Homo sapiens: one gene and its partners. The protein of the gene in region 2 purifies or fractionates together with the protein of the main gene of each other region. This does not show direct contact. Each region holds a gene or a part of one and is shown on either strand. Other genes may lie near its edges.

Region 1 (3,500 bases), on a different chromosome or scaffold from region 2:
TCCCAGCACTTTGGGAGGCCGAGGCGGGTGGATCACAAGGTCAGGAGTTCAAGACCAGCCTGACCAAGATGGTGAAACCCCATCTCTAAAAAATACAAAAATTAGTCAGGCACAATGGCGCATGCCTGTAATCCCAGTTACTTGCGAGGCTGAGGCAGGAGAATCACTTGAACCTGGGAGAAGGTTGCAGTGAGCCGAGATCGCTGCACTCTAGCCTGGGTGACAGAGCAAGACTTCGTCTCAAAAAAAAAAAAAAAAAGTGGTATTAGTTGCCGGGCATGCTGGCTCACACCTGTAATCCCAGCACTTTGGGAGGCCCAGGCTGGCAGATCACGAGGTCAGGAGTTTGAGACCAGTCTGGCCAATGTAGCGAAACCCCGTCTCTACTAAAAGTACAAAAATTAGCCGGGCGTGGTGGCAGGCAGCTGTAATCCTAGCTACTCAGGAGGCTGGGGCGGGAGAATCGCTTCAACCTGGGAGGCAGAGGTTGCAGTGAGCTGAGACCACGCCATTGCACTCCAGCCTGGGCGACAAAGCGAGACTCCATCTCAAAAAAAAAAAAAAAAAAAAAAGAAAGGTATTAGTATCAGTTTTATACTGTGGCTATAGAAATTCTGAATATCAAATGATATAAATTCCTGGTAAACACTTCAAGATGAATTAATTGAGGCAGATGAATGGTGTGAGCCCAGGAGTTCAAGACCAGTCTGGGCAACATGGTGAAACCTCATCTCTACCAAAAATACGAAAATTAGCCAGGTGTGGTGGTACACACCTGTAGTCCCAGCTAGTTGGGAGGCTGAGGTGGGAGGATCAGCTGAGACTGGGAGGTGGAGGCTGCAGTGAGCCATGATTGCACCACTGCACTCCAGCCTGGGCAACAGTGAAAACCTGTCTCAAAAAAAAAAAAAAAGGTAAGTTAATTGTTGAATGTAGCCTTGAGTAACTGATTGAACGGGTCTGCTATGTAGAGTTGTTGACAGTTATATTACATATGTAGTACATTTTAGAAAACAGTTGACAGAATTATGGTTTTTTTTTTGTTTTTTTTTTTTTTGTTTGAGATGGAGTTTTGCTTGTTGACCAGGCTGGAGTGCAATGGTGTGATCTCGGCTCACTGCAGCCTCTGCCTCCTGGGTTCAAGTGATCCTCCTGCCTCAGCCTCCTGAGTAGCTGGGATTACAGACATGCGCCACCACACCCAGCTAATTTTGTATTTTTAGTAGAGATGGGGTTTCTCCATGTTCGTTAGGCTGGTCTTGAATTCCTGACCTCCGGTGATCCGTCCGCCTTGGCCTCCCAAAGTGCTGGGATTACAGGCATGAGCCACCATGCCCAGCCCAGAATTAGGATTTTAAAAATTTTTATTTAGTTTTGAGATGGAGTCTCACTCTGTTTCCCAGACCGGAGTGCAGTCATGCTATCTCGGTTCACAGCAACCTCTGCCTCCTGGGTTCAAGTGGTTCTTGTGCCTCTGCCTCCTGAATACCTGAGATTACAGGGGCGCACCACCATGCCCAGCTAATTTTTTCTGTTTTTAGTAGAGGCGGGGTTTCCCCATGGTGGCTAGGCTGATCTCGAACTCCTGGCCTCAATTGATCCGCCTGCCTTGGCCTCCCAAAGTGCTGGGATTACAGGCGTGAGCCATCGTGCCTGGCCTAAAATTATGATTTTTATTTTAGGATATTGATGTTAAATAATTCTTTTTGATAGGTGTTAGTTAGTGGCTGAGTTATCTTTTGAGAACATTTCTAGTGCAGACCAAACTGTAAGACAGTTTAAGAAAAACAAAGACAGTTTGAGATAAGAACCTCATGCATTATTATTTCTTTGTATCTTTTTCCCCTTAAAACTTTTATTTCCTTATCATAGTTCATCTTTGCACCCTTATAAGGTACTAAGGGGGAGCTCAGTAAAACTAGTGAACCAATAAATGAATTGGTGGCAAGAGGAGTTAGTGTGGGATGGGTTTGGTTGTCCAAAATAATGTGATACTATTTAATGCCCCTGAAAAACTGCAATGGACTGAAAGGAGTTTTAAGATTAGGAAACTGGCCGGGCGTGGTGGCTCATGCCTGTAATCTCAGCATTTTGGGAGGCTGAGGCGGGCGGATCACCTAAGGCTGGAAGTTCAAGACCAGCCTGACCAACATGGAGAAACCCCGTCTCTACTAAAAATACAAAATTAGCCTGGCGTGGTGGCGCATGCCTGTAATCCCAGCTACTCAGGAGGCTGAGGCAGGAGAATCGCTGGAAACTGGGAGGCGGAGGTTGCAGAGAGCCGAGATCGTGCCATTGCACTCTAGCCTGGGCAACAAGAGCGAAACTCCATCTCACACACACACAAAAAAGATTAGGAAACTTGGTCTCTATGTGCTTTTGGAAAATTCTGAAGAGTCCAATATGTCTGTTAATGATGTTTGGGTTATGAGTTGGAGAATCCTTTCTGGTCCTATTAGGAACAAGATCCATTTGTTTGGATAGGATTCACATTGATGAAAGCTTTACTGTATGATTTGGGGGCTTTTGTTGTTGTTGTTGTTGTTACATATTTAAAGCAAAGAGATCCGGGCATTTTGTTGTTGTATGTAATTTGTTTAAGAAACATTTGAATGCTTTCTAGTTCTGGGTTCTAGGGATATAGATATGAGTGAGGTGGCCGTTGTTGGGGAAAATCTCATGTATTAATGGGAAGACAGACACTGAAATATGAGACAGTGTAATGACTTTGTATATATACAAAGGTTTACACAGTACATACAAAGGGTTTATAGGAATTCTGCATAGTGGTAGTGAGGGCAGTTTCTGCAGTCATTTATCTAAGCCCTGAAGGTTTAGAAGGTTAATTTGTTGGTAGTGTGACTATTGAAATGACAAGAGATGACAGCCTAGATGTAGACTGACTAATAATGAGGTCTTGGGTGAACTAAATTCAGGACCTGAACCAAGATAGTGCCAGAAGTGGAAAGAAAGATGTTTTTAAGAGCTTGGGCTGTGGTGTCAGACTAAGGGGTGGTTCTCAACTAAGGGGGTTTTGCCTCCTAAGGGACATTTGAGAATGTCTGGAGACATTTTGGGTTGTTACAACTTGGAGCACCTAGTGAGTAGAGGCCAGATATACTGCTACACATCCTAAAATGCATGGGACAGCATCCTAATCTAAGAGTTCCCCAGCTCAAAATGTCATTAGTTCTGAGGCTGAGAAATCTTGCATTAGAGTTTGAATCCTAGCCCTTCCAAATGTCCTCACCAATACTTGGTCTTGTGATTCTTTCTTTTTTTTTTGTTTTTTGAACAGGTCTGTAGAGGTACAGTTGGCATACAGTGAGCTGTACATATTTGAAGTGTACAATTTGATAAGTTTTGAAATACATGTATACCCTTAAAACCACCACCATTGTTTGCCATTCTGTGGGTGTACACTGGTACGTGTCATTGTGGTTTTCATTTGCCTTTCCCTGATGACTGATAATGTTGAGTATCTTTTCATGTGCTAATTT
Region 2 (3,500 bases):
GTTAGGGCAGGATGGTGAGAGAAATACACAGAATTCCATTACAGGGGGCACACACGATCACAGATATAGTTTTGATTACTTTTCTTTTTTTTTTTTTTTTTTTCCAGGTTCAACTTCTCATCTTTGTTCTTCTTCATATACTATAGGCTGTTTGCTGTGGTTTAGTCAAAAAGCCATGTAGAATGCCTGCCTTTTGAAGACCACTTTTAAGGTGTCTAGTAAGACAGCAGGTAAGTCTAGTAGGGAAAGCATGCTTAGGAGAATATTTTATGAGGAGAAAATTAAAAAAAAATACCTGGAGTTCTTGAGGAAAATCTCTAAAAGTGTACACGCCCTTATGGATATAATGTGTGTTGTGTGCTAGATATACATAATTTGGGATATGAGAAGTGAATTCTGTAGCATTCTTTGTAGATTTAAGTATGAGATTGGCCTGAAGAGCTGGTGGTAGGCAGCGGGAAGAGGAGGGATGGCTGGGAGGAATGGGGAATGGTAGGTGAGTCAGACTCAAACCCAGCACACCTGAGCTCTTAGTCTCTGTTGTAATTACAATATGTAATATAGTGCTCTTTAATATTAGCTTGGCTGTTCATTATTGCCAGTTGGGCTGTTCATTATTGCCTCATGGGATTATTGAGACATATCCTACGTTTTCCCCTAAAGTCTTCTAGTTTTATTTAACAATGGGCTCTGAGACGGATGGTTAACCCATTATTTTTCCATGCATTCAATTACGTTTGTAAGTTAAAGATCATTTTCAGAGATTTTTCATCAGTACGGAATTATTTATTTTTCTTTTGTTACAGTCCTGGCCCCAAAACAGTTTTCTAAAATACAGGATAACTGCTGGGCAACTCAGAAAGAGTAAATAGTTTCCGAAGAAAAGTATTTGTTTCCTCAAGTATCTGTCACCTTTTTAGCTTTAGATCAAAAAATAAAAAAGGCAAATGATATACCTTGGATAAAAGTGTTAGGAAGCAGTATTGCCAGTGAGAACATCTTTAAAAACAAATTATCAAAGTTAGAAATGTTAATTTTTTTTTTTTTTTTTTTTTTTGAGATGGAGTCTTGCTCTGTCACCAGGCTGGAATGCAGCGGCATGATCTCAGCTCTCTGCAACCTCCGACTTCTGGTCCAAGCGATTGGCCTGCCTCAGCCTCCCAAGTAGCTGGGACTACAGGCACACGCCACCACGCCTGGCTAATTTTTGTATTTTTAGTAGAGATGGGGTTTCACCATGTTGGCCATGATGGTCTTGATCTCCCGACCTCGTGATCTGCCTGCCCGGCCTCCCAAAGTGCTGAGATTACAGGCATGAGCCACTGCGCCCAGCCTATACATTTTTTTAAAATAATGGTTTTGTAATTAATAAAGGGAGAGCCTGCATTTCTAATCTGTACTGTTCTTTGAGGAGGAGTAAATATCATTACCGTCAATAAGGGAAGGTGTTCAGTCTTTCTCATTAAAGAGAAGCACATTAACACAATAGTGAAATACTAGCTTTCACCTAGGTTGTAGCAAGGATTAGGAATTTATAGGAAATTGTCTCTCATATATACACGTTGTTATGCAGTAATAGAAGTTTTTGAGAGTTTGGTAAAATGTATCAATTTTACACACAAATGGCCAAGTAATCCATTGCTAGGAATTTTCCCTGCAGAAATACCCTCACATGCACAGATAAGTACAGGGAAAGTCAGTGCTTATTCCATATGTAAAAATGTCTTAGAGATAAATTCTAAATGAGAGTAAGTTGCCAGATAATATGTTTAATATCCCATTTGTGTAAAGCATGTGTGTTGATCAATATATGCTTAGGACATTTCTTCCAGGACACATGAGTACACTGGCTACCCCTAGGGACTGACACTCTGTATCTCGTACTGTGTGAATGTGTTTTTAACTGTGAGCTTCTATTCCCTTTACTACTTAAGAAGACTGGTTTACAATTTTTTTAAATTCATGTTTTCCGGCAACTGTGTTCCAGCTGCTGGGGTGTCCTCTGATTTGCCCTTTGGTTGGTATGCGCCTTCACATCATTCAGGATCTCTGCTGGAATGTCCCATGCATAGAGGTCTTTTCCAACGGCCTCTACATCACTCTCCACCTTATCTTTCCAACTCATGAACGCCATATTGCAAAGCACTGCTTTAAGCCTAAGTGCCTAGAACATTGTAGGACACAAAGTTATTTATTTATTAAATGAATTAATAGAATACTATATTGGGATAGATTAAACATTACAAAATATGTTGACATGAAATCAAGCCAGCATCATGTTTTAAAGTCATCTTTTTATAGCTAGATTTAATTTATTAAGTGCTTTCTGCAAAAGTTTTAGTCTCTTGTTCATCCTTAAATAGCCAAGATTTAATTTTGATATTCACTCATCTTTGTGTGCTGAGGACTTTTGTACTCGGAGTTTGAGAGTCAAAGTATAAAGCACATGCAATAGCTAATTCTAGAGTCAGGCTCACATCACTGATAGTCCTATAGCCTGGACCAGAGAAAGTCAGGTAACTTCTCTGAACCTGTTTCTTCATCTGTAAGTGAAAATAATAGTTGAGTCATATCATTAGGATTAAATGAGATGATGTATGTGAAACTCCTAGCAGAGTGCCTGGGACTGTTCTATATCTCCTTTTTCTTCAAATTCTCCCTAGAGATACTATCAAATAAAGCACGCACTGTTCTAGACTTAAAATTATGCAGTTATAGAATGGACTGACAGCATTTTATTCAGAATTACAGTTCATGAAAATAATTTATTCCTACTTTATTGCAGCAGTATTGAAAGTTTTTAAAGAATATAACCGTGTGTGTTGGTAACAGACAGAAGAATGGAAGCATTCCAGGAACTTCGTAAACCATCAGCACGTTTGGAGTGTGACCATTGCAGTTTCAGAGGCACAGACTATGAAAATGTACAAATCCATATGGGTACCATCCATCCAGAATTTTGTGATGAAATGGATGCTGGTGGGCTAGGCAAAATGATATTTTACCAGAAAAGTGCAAAGTTATTTCACTGCCATAAATGCTTCTTCACCAGCAAGATGTACTCTAATGTATACTATCACATCACATCCAAACATGCATCCCCAGACAAATGGAATGATAAACCAAAAAATCAGTTGAACAAAGAAACAGATCCTGTGAAAAGCCCTCCTCTTCCTGAACACCAGAAAATACCCTGCAATTCAGCAGAACCAAAATCCATACCTGCCCTTTCAATGGAAACACAGAAACTTGGTTCAGTTTTGTCTCCAGAATCGCCAAAACCTACTCCTCTTACTCCCCTGGAGCCTCAGAAACCTGGCTCTGTTGTTTCTCCTGAGCTACAGACACCTCTTCCTTCTCCTGAGCCTTCAAAACCTGCCTCTGTTTCTTCTCCTGAACCTCCAAAATCAGTCCCTGTTTGTGAGTCTCAGAAACTTGCCCCTGTTCCTTCTCCAGAACCACAGAAACCTGCCCCTGTATCTCCTGAGTCAGTAAAGGCT
Region 3 (3,500 bases), on a different chromosome or scaffold from region 2:
AAAGTCCTGGGAACAATTCTTTGTCATAGGATGATATATGGATTTGTACTTTTGATATTTTCAAGTTGCCCTCTCTTAGAGATTCTATTATTTTATACTCCCAGTAACTGCTTAGGGGAGAATGCTGGTTGACCTAACCCTTTCCAGCACTACCAGGCTTTGATTTTTGCCAGTCTGATAAGTAAAAAAACAGTATCTCAAGATGACTTTAATTTGCTTTCCTCTTAACTATGTACATATTCATAGCCATTTGCGTTTATTATCCTTTACTCATTTTTCTGTTAGGTATTTGGTCTTGTTGATTTGTAGGAAGCCTTTAAAAATTATTATTACTGTTAATGTATTTTTATTTTTTTTTTTGAGTCAGAGTCTCGCTCTGTCACCCAGGCTGAAGTGCAGTGGTGCCATCTTGGCTCGCTGCAACTCCACCTCCTGGGTTCAAGCAATTCTCTTGTCTTAGCCTCCCGAGTACCTGGGATTATGGGCGCACACCACCATGCCTAGCTAATTTTTTTATTTTTAGTAGAGACAGGGTTTCACCATGTTGGCCAGGCTGGTCTTGAGCTCCTGACCTCAAGTGATCTGACCTCCTTGGCCTCCCAGAGTGCTTGGATTACAGGCGTGAGCCACTGCTCCCCCGCCGCTATTATTTTTTAATAGAGACGGACTTTCACTACGTTGGACAGGCTGGTCTGGGACTCCTGACTTCAAGCAATCCTCCTGCCTTGGCCTCCCAAAGTGCTGGGATTATAGGTGTGAGTCACCATGTCCAGCCCCCTTTTTATATTAGGGAAAGGAGTTCTTTATAAGTTGCAAATACCTTTTCCTGGTTAGTTTGCTTTTTGATTTTGCTTAAATGATTTTGCCAGATTAAAAAATTTACAGAATATTAAATTTTATTTTATTTTTATTTCTTTGAGACGGAGTCTTTCCCTGTCACCCAGGCTGGAGTGCAGTGGCGTGATCTTGGCTCAGTGCACCTTCTGCCTCCTAGGATCAAGTGATTCTCATGCCTCAGCCTCCTGAGTAGCTGGGACTACAGGCGTGCACCACCACACCAGGCTAATTTTTTAATTTTTAATAGAGATGGGGTTTCGCCATGTTGGCCAGGCTAGTCTCGAATTCCTGGCTTTAAATGATCCACTGGCCTCAGCCTCTCAAAGTGCTGGGATTGCAGGTGTGAGCCACCACACCTGGCATCATATAGTATTAAATTTATCACTTTTTTTTTTTTTGGCCTTACTGGTTTTAGATTTTGTGTCTTATCAAAAAACTTTTCTCAGGATTTAGGAATAAAAAAATTAAATATTAGAGTCATCTGGAATTTATTTCAGTGTAAGGTCCATTGAGTTCCAGTGATTTGTCATGGCTTCTTTAAACGTGTGTACTAAGAAGTTAGATAGCTTTTTACTTATTTATGGAACCATGTCTTCTGAACCATATGAAGAACTAATTCTGTACAATTAGCTCTTTGGGATGAAAATGGAACTTTACTTATTTAATTTACTCATCACTGGGGAACTTGCTATATAAAGGAATCTTCTGGTAAATTCATAAAGTGTTAGGATGCTTTAAAAATGCATAACCTTCAAATTTAACTTTTTAATTTTGTATACTTTTTTAATAATGAATATACTCTTTTGTTTCTTTGTGTGAGATTATAGTATTTATAGTGAATTGTTAGAGGATTAGGATATAAGCACCTTAACTAATTAGATTAAAATGAACTTTAAAAAATGATTAGATATTCCAGAGTAAATATTCTTACTGTGATTGAAAGAAAAGCTTAGAAGCAAAGTCTTAGAAGAATTTAGGAATATTTTGGGGATAACATAATCGTTCTTGTATTTTTGTTCAAGAAATAAATACTCACTTGATTAAAGGGTGTTTTTTGTTTTTGGTTTTTTTTTGCTTGTTTCTTAGGATGGGAAGGCCATTGTGACTATGTGGTGATTACAGTTGTCTTACTACTGAGTTTCCTACTGAAATCATGGAGGAGAAACAGCAGATTATATTGGCTAATCAAGATGGTGGAACAGTGGCAGGAGCAGCACCTACCTTCTTTGTCATCTTAAAGCAGCCAGGAAATGGCAAAACTGATCAAGGAATTTTGGTTACTAATCAGGATGCCTGTGCTTTGGCTAGTAGTGTGTCATCACCAGTAAAATCTAAAGGGAAGATTTGCCTTCCAGCTGATTGTACTGTGGGTGGAATCACTGTTACCCTCGATAACAATAGTATGTGGAATGAGTTCTATCATCGAAGCACAGAGATGATTCTGACCAAGCAAGGAAGACGCATGTTTCCTTACTGTCGTTATTGGATAACAGGTTTAGATTCAAATTTGAAGTATATTCTTGTCATGGATATATCTCCTGTGGATAACCATCGTTATAAGTGGAATGGTCGTTGGTGGGAACCTAGTGGGAAGGCTGAACCTCATGTTTTGGGGAGGGTTTTCATTCATCCAGAATCTCCTTCCACAGGTCATTATTGGATGCATCAACCAGTATCTTTCTATAAACTCAAACTTACCAACAATACACTGGACCAAGAAGGGCATATCATCTTGCACTCTATGCATCGTTACCTGCCGAGGCTTCATTTGGTGCCTGCAGAAAAGGCTGTGGAGGTGATACAATTAAATGGCCCTGGTGTCCACACTTTTACCTTCCCACAGACTGAATTCTTTGCAGTAACAGCTTATCAGAACATTCAGATTACTCAGCTGAAAATAGATTACAATCCATTTGCCAAAGGCTTTCGGGATGATGGGCTGAATAATAAGCCCCAGAGAGATGGAAAACAAAAGAACAGCTCTGACCAAGAAGGGAATAATATTTCCAGTTCTTCTGGTCATCGGGTCCGTCTTACAGAAGGTCAGGGGTCAGAGATACAACCAGGTGATTTGGATCCTTTGTCAAGGGGTCATGAAACATCAGGCAAGGGTTTGGAGAAGACTTCCCTTAATATAAAACGAGACTTTCTTGGTTTCATGGATACTGATTCAGCACTTAGTGAAGTTCCTCAATTGAAGCAAGAGATTTCTGAATGGTAAGTAGTAGTTTTTCTGTTCTTAGAAATAAAAGGAAGATTGAGATGGGCCAGGTGTTGGATTTAACATCTTGGTTCTGTGGAATGCTACAGATGTTGATAAATGTAAGCCACTATAAAATATACTACAACTGCTTTTACATTCTGTGAAGTGACATCATTTTTCTGTAATGAGAATCAGTTGGGTTCAGGATCTAGAATTGTAGGCAAATTGGATAACTTATCAGAATTATTCATATGTATTTAGAATGTTCCTTGATATCCTTGGGGGATTGGTTCCAGGACCACCCAAGAATACCAACACCTGACTACATTTGAGACTCCATCTCAATAAAAAAAAGAAAATCATACCAATTATGACAACATAGATGAGCCTAGAGAATACTATGCTAAGTGAAATAGGCAAAACAAAAAAAGACAAATACTGCAAAATATTCATAAAAGTA
Region 4 (3,500 bases), on a different chromosome or scaffold from region 2:
AGGCTGGTCTCAAACTCCTGACTTCAGGTGATCCACCCACCTTGGCTTCCCAAAGTGCTGGGACTACAGGTGTGAGCCACCACGCCCAGCCTGATTTTTATTTTTACAGTTTATCTCATTCTTTGGAACAAGAGCACTTTTAAAGCTCATTGGAACCTCCGAGTCCCGCACACCGGGTTGGGGAGCGGAGAAAGTATCCAACGGCGGCTGAAGAAATCTGATTCACCTGCAGTTTCTAGAAGCCTTCTATTTCCTGCTTAGCAACAGGGTGGGAGACTCTTCACCCAGTTATGTTTATAGTCTCCTTGTTCAGTCCAGACGGTCACCTTCCTCGTGTGTCTCGTATATCAGATGCAGTCACACAGCACACTGGCAGGAAATGCACATCAGACATCTTCCAGGCTGTGTCTCTGTGGCTTTTGTTAAAGCTACCAGAGATGTATTGGAACACATTTAGAATTTTTCCTTAGAGACAAGGGCAGATATCCTAACCCAAACTGAAAGCTGAGCTGTCAGGCTCCAGACGTGTGGGAAGCCCATATTGGATGAGAGGTGGTCCTCATGCAGTGTTAGGAGCGGGCACCTGTGGAGCTGGGCAGGTGAGCGTTTTTTTTTTTTATTTTGAGACAGTCTCGCTCTGTTGCCCATGCTGGAGTGCAGCGGCGTGATCTCGGCTCCCTGCAACCTCCACCTCCCAGGTTCGAGCGATTCTCCTGCCTCGGTCTCCCAAGAAGCTGGGATTACAGGCACGTGCCTTCATGCCCAGCTAATTTTTGTATTTTTAGTAGAGACGGGGTTTCACCATGTTGGCCAGGCTGGTCTCGAACTCCTGACCTCAAGTAATCCGCCTGCCTCGGCTTCCCAAAGTGCTGGGATTACAGGTGGGAGCCTGCGCCTGGCTGAGCATGTTTAACATTGAACTTCAGATTACGTAATGACTGAGTGTCCCAGGCCACTGCCAAGTCTTTGGAATGAGGAACGTAGTGATGAAGTGTTACTTCCTTAAAGAATTTGAAACAAGGCTGGGCGTAGTGGCTCGCCCCCATAATCCCACACTTTGGGAGGCCAAAGTGGGAGGATTTCTTGAGCCCAGGAGTTTGAGACAAGCCTGGGCAACGTAGTGTCTCTACTAAAAAGAAAAAGAATTCCTGGGCTGGTTGCAATGGGTCATGCCTGTAATCCTAGCACTTTGGGAGGCTGAGGTGGACAGATTGCTTGAGCGCAGGAGTTAAAGATCAGTCTGGGCAACATAGTGAGACTCCATCTCTACAAAAATTAGCCAGGTGTGGTGACAGGTGCCTGTGGTCCCAGCTACTCGGGAGGCTGAGGCAGGAGGACTGATTTGAGCCCAGGACGGAGGTTGCAGTGAGCCAAGATAGCATTGCTGCACTCCCTCCAGCCTGGGCACTAGAATGAGACTCTATCTCCAAATAAATAAATAATGTTTTTTTGTTTTGTTTTTCAGACAGAGTCTTGCTCTGTCACCCAGGCTGCAGTGCCGTGGCGTGATCTTGAACTGCCTTGTGGGTTTAAGCGATCCTTGTGCCTCAGACTCCTGAGTAGCTGGGACTATAGGTGTGCGCCACCACATTCAGCTAATTTTTTTGTATTTTTGGTAGACTTGGGGTTTCACCTTCTTGGCCAGGCTGGTCTCAAACTTCTGGCCTCAAGCAATTTGTCTGCCTCAGCCTCCCAAAGTGCTGGGATTATAGGTGTGAGCCCCCTCAGCCCAGCAGGATTGTGTTTTAAATGAATCTTATATTGAATTTCCCACAAGTACCAGGACACAGGGCTAATTCTTAACATTTTTCTCATGATGGAAGGAAGCATAATGGATTATGAAAATCACTTCTGTGGCTGGGTGCTGGGGCTCATGCCTATAATTCCAACACTTTGGGAGGCTAAGGCAGAAGGATTGTTTGAGGCCACGTGTTCAAGACCAGCCTGGGCAACACAGCAAAACCCCATCTCTAGGAAAATTACAAAAATAGCTGGGTATAGTGGTGTGTGCTTATAGCCCCTGCTACTCAGGAGCCTGAGGTGGGAGGATCACTTGAGCCTGGGAGGTCGAGGCTGCAGCCAGCTATGACTGCACCACTGCACTCCACCATGGGCAACAGAGTAGACTTTGTCTCAAGAAAAATAAAATCACTTCTGTGTAAAGTTGTTGACTGGAGGCTCCTCCTGGAGCTGGTCTCTGAATTCTTATTTATTCATTTATTTTTTTAACTGAGTCTCAGTTGCCCAGGCTGGAGTGCAGTGGTGTGACCTCAGCTCACTGCACCCTACGTCTCCTGGTTCAAGTGATTCTCCTGCCCCAGCCTCCTGAGTAGCTGGGACTACGGGTACCCTCCACCACGCCTGGCTAATTTTTTTTTTTTTTTTTATTAAATGGAGTCTCACTCTGTCACTGATGCTGGAGTGCAGTGGCACCGTGTTGGCTCACTGCAACCTCCGTCTCCTGGTTTCAAGCAATTCTTCTGCCTCAGCCTCCCCAGTAGCTGGGATTACAGGCGCCCACCATGCCTGGCTAGTTTTTTTTAAAAATATTTTTAGTAGAGATGGGGTTTCACCATCTTGGCCAGGCTGGTCTCGAACTCCTGACCTCAGGTGATCCACTTGCCTCGGCCTCCCAAAGTGCTGGGATTACAGGCGTGAACCACCGCGCGCAGCCAATTTTTGTATTTTTAGTAGAGACAGGGTTTCACCCTGTTGACCAGGCTGGTCTCAAACTCCTGACCTCAGGTGATCTACCCACCTCAGCCTCCCAAAGTGCTGGAATTACAGGCGTGAGCCACCATGCCTAGCCTTGGTCCCTCAATTCTGTTCATCCCGTCCAGGCCGTGCTGTCCTCCATGCTGTGAACCGAGCTTCCTCCTGGGAGTTGGAGGGAGGGCCACCTGTCACTTGCCACACTGTCTTGTAGGATCAGGAGCGTCTGGGCAAGCAGCTCAAGTTACGTGCAGAAAGGGAAGAAAAGGAGAAGCTGAAAGAGGAGGCCAAGCGGGCCAAGGAGGAGGCCAAGAAGAAGAAGGAGGAAGAGAAGGAGCTTAAGGAAAAGGAGAGGCGGGAGAAGCGGGAGAAGGATGAGAAGGAGAAGGCGGAGAAGCAGCGGCTCAAGGAGGAGCGGCGCAAGGAGAGACAGGAAGCCCTGGAGTGAGTGTCCTTGGAGGCCATGCTGGGCCCGCCACCCTGCTGCTGGATTCCGCTCCTGGCCACTCTGATGGGGCCTTTCCACTTCACAGGCAGATGGCGGCTCCCTTCAGTTCCTTCCCATTTCTCCTTCGTGAGGTGCCCGTGGGGCCCTGACGTGGGAGCGGTGGAAAGCAGCTCCCTGCTCTTTAGTGCTCCCCCACGTCCAACTCACCCTGGACCCCTTGTCTCTGCTGTGACCATCCTTCCAGTTCCCAACCAACTTAGGCATTTGCATTGCAGGATTGTGGGTTTTGTCTGTGCTAATTGTGCTCTGACTGGCTAAAGTTTTTTATATATATTCTAGT

What was found. Proteins that work in one complex are often made in the same cells at the same time.
Region 1: the proteins of CHAMP1 (region 2) and SCAI purify together in Homo sapiens (affinity purification with mass spectrometry, with the first as the bait; one large-scale study listed by BioGRID). This does not show direct contact.
Region 3: the proteins of CHAMP1 (region 2) and MGA purify together in Homo sapiens (affinity purification with mass spectrometry, with the first as the bait; one large-scale study listed by BioGRID). This does not show direct contact.
Region 4: the proteins of CHAMP1 (region 2) and CHAF1A purify together in Homo sapiens (affinity purification with mass spectrometry, with the first as the bait; one large-scale study listed by BioGRID). This does not show direct contact.

Annotation. Positions count from the first base shown.
Region 1 is NC_000009.12:125,133,529-125,137,028, reverse strand, and holds part of SCAI (protein SCAI), read left to right. Parts: intron 1-3,500. UniProt on the Homo sapiens protein: Tumor suppressor which functions to suppress MRTFA-induced SRF transcriptional activity. May function in the RHOA-DIAPH1 signal transduction pathway and regulate cell migration through transcriptional regulation of ITGB1.
Region 2 is NC_000013.11:114,321,003-114,324,502, forward strand, and holds part of CHAMP1 (chromosome alignment-maintaining phosphoprotein 1), read left to right. Parts: intron 1-107; 5' UTR 108-230; intron 231-1,060; exon of another isoform or gene 1,061-2,785; 5' UTR 2,786-2,840; coding exon 2,841-3,500. UniProt on the Homo sapiens protein: Required for proper alignment of chromosomes at metaphase and their accurate segregation during mitosis. Involved in the maintenance of spindle microtubules attachment to the kinetochore during sister chromatid biorientation.
Region 3 is NC_000015.10:41,666,905-41,670,404, forward strand, and holds part of MGA (MAX gene-associated protein), read left to right. Parts: intron 1-1,923; 5' UTR 1,924-1,990; coding exon 1,991-3,054; intron 3,055-3,500. UniProt on the Homo sapiens protein: Functions as a dual-specificity transcription factor, regulating the expression of both MAX-network and T-box family target genes. Functions as a repressor or an activator.
Region 4 is NC_000019.10:4,419,640-4,423,139, forward strand, and holds part of CHAF1A (chromatin assembly factor 1 subunit A), read left to right. Parts: intron 1-2,926; coding exon 2,927-3,156; intron 3,157-3,500. UniProt on the Homo sapiens protein: Acts as a component of the histone chaperone complex chromatin assembly factor 1 (CAF-1), which assembles histone octamers onto DNA during replication and repair.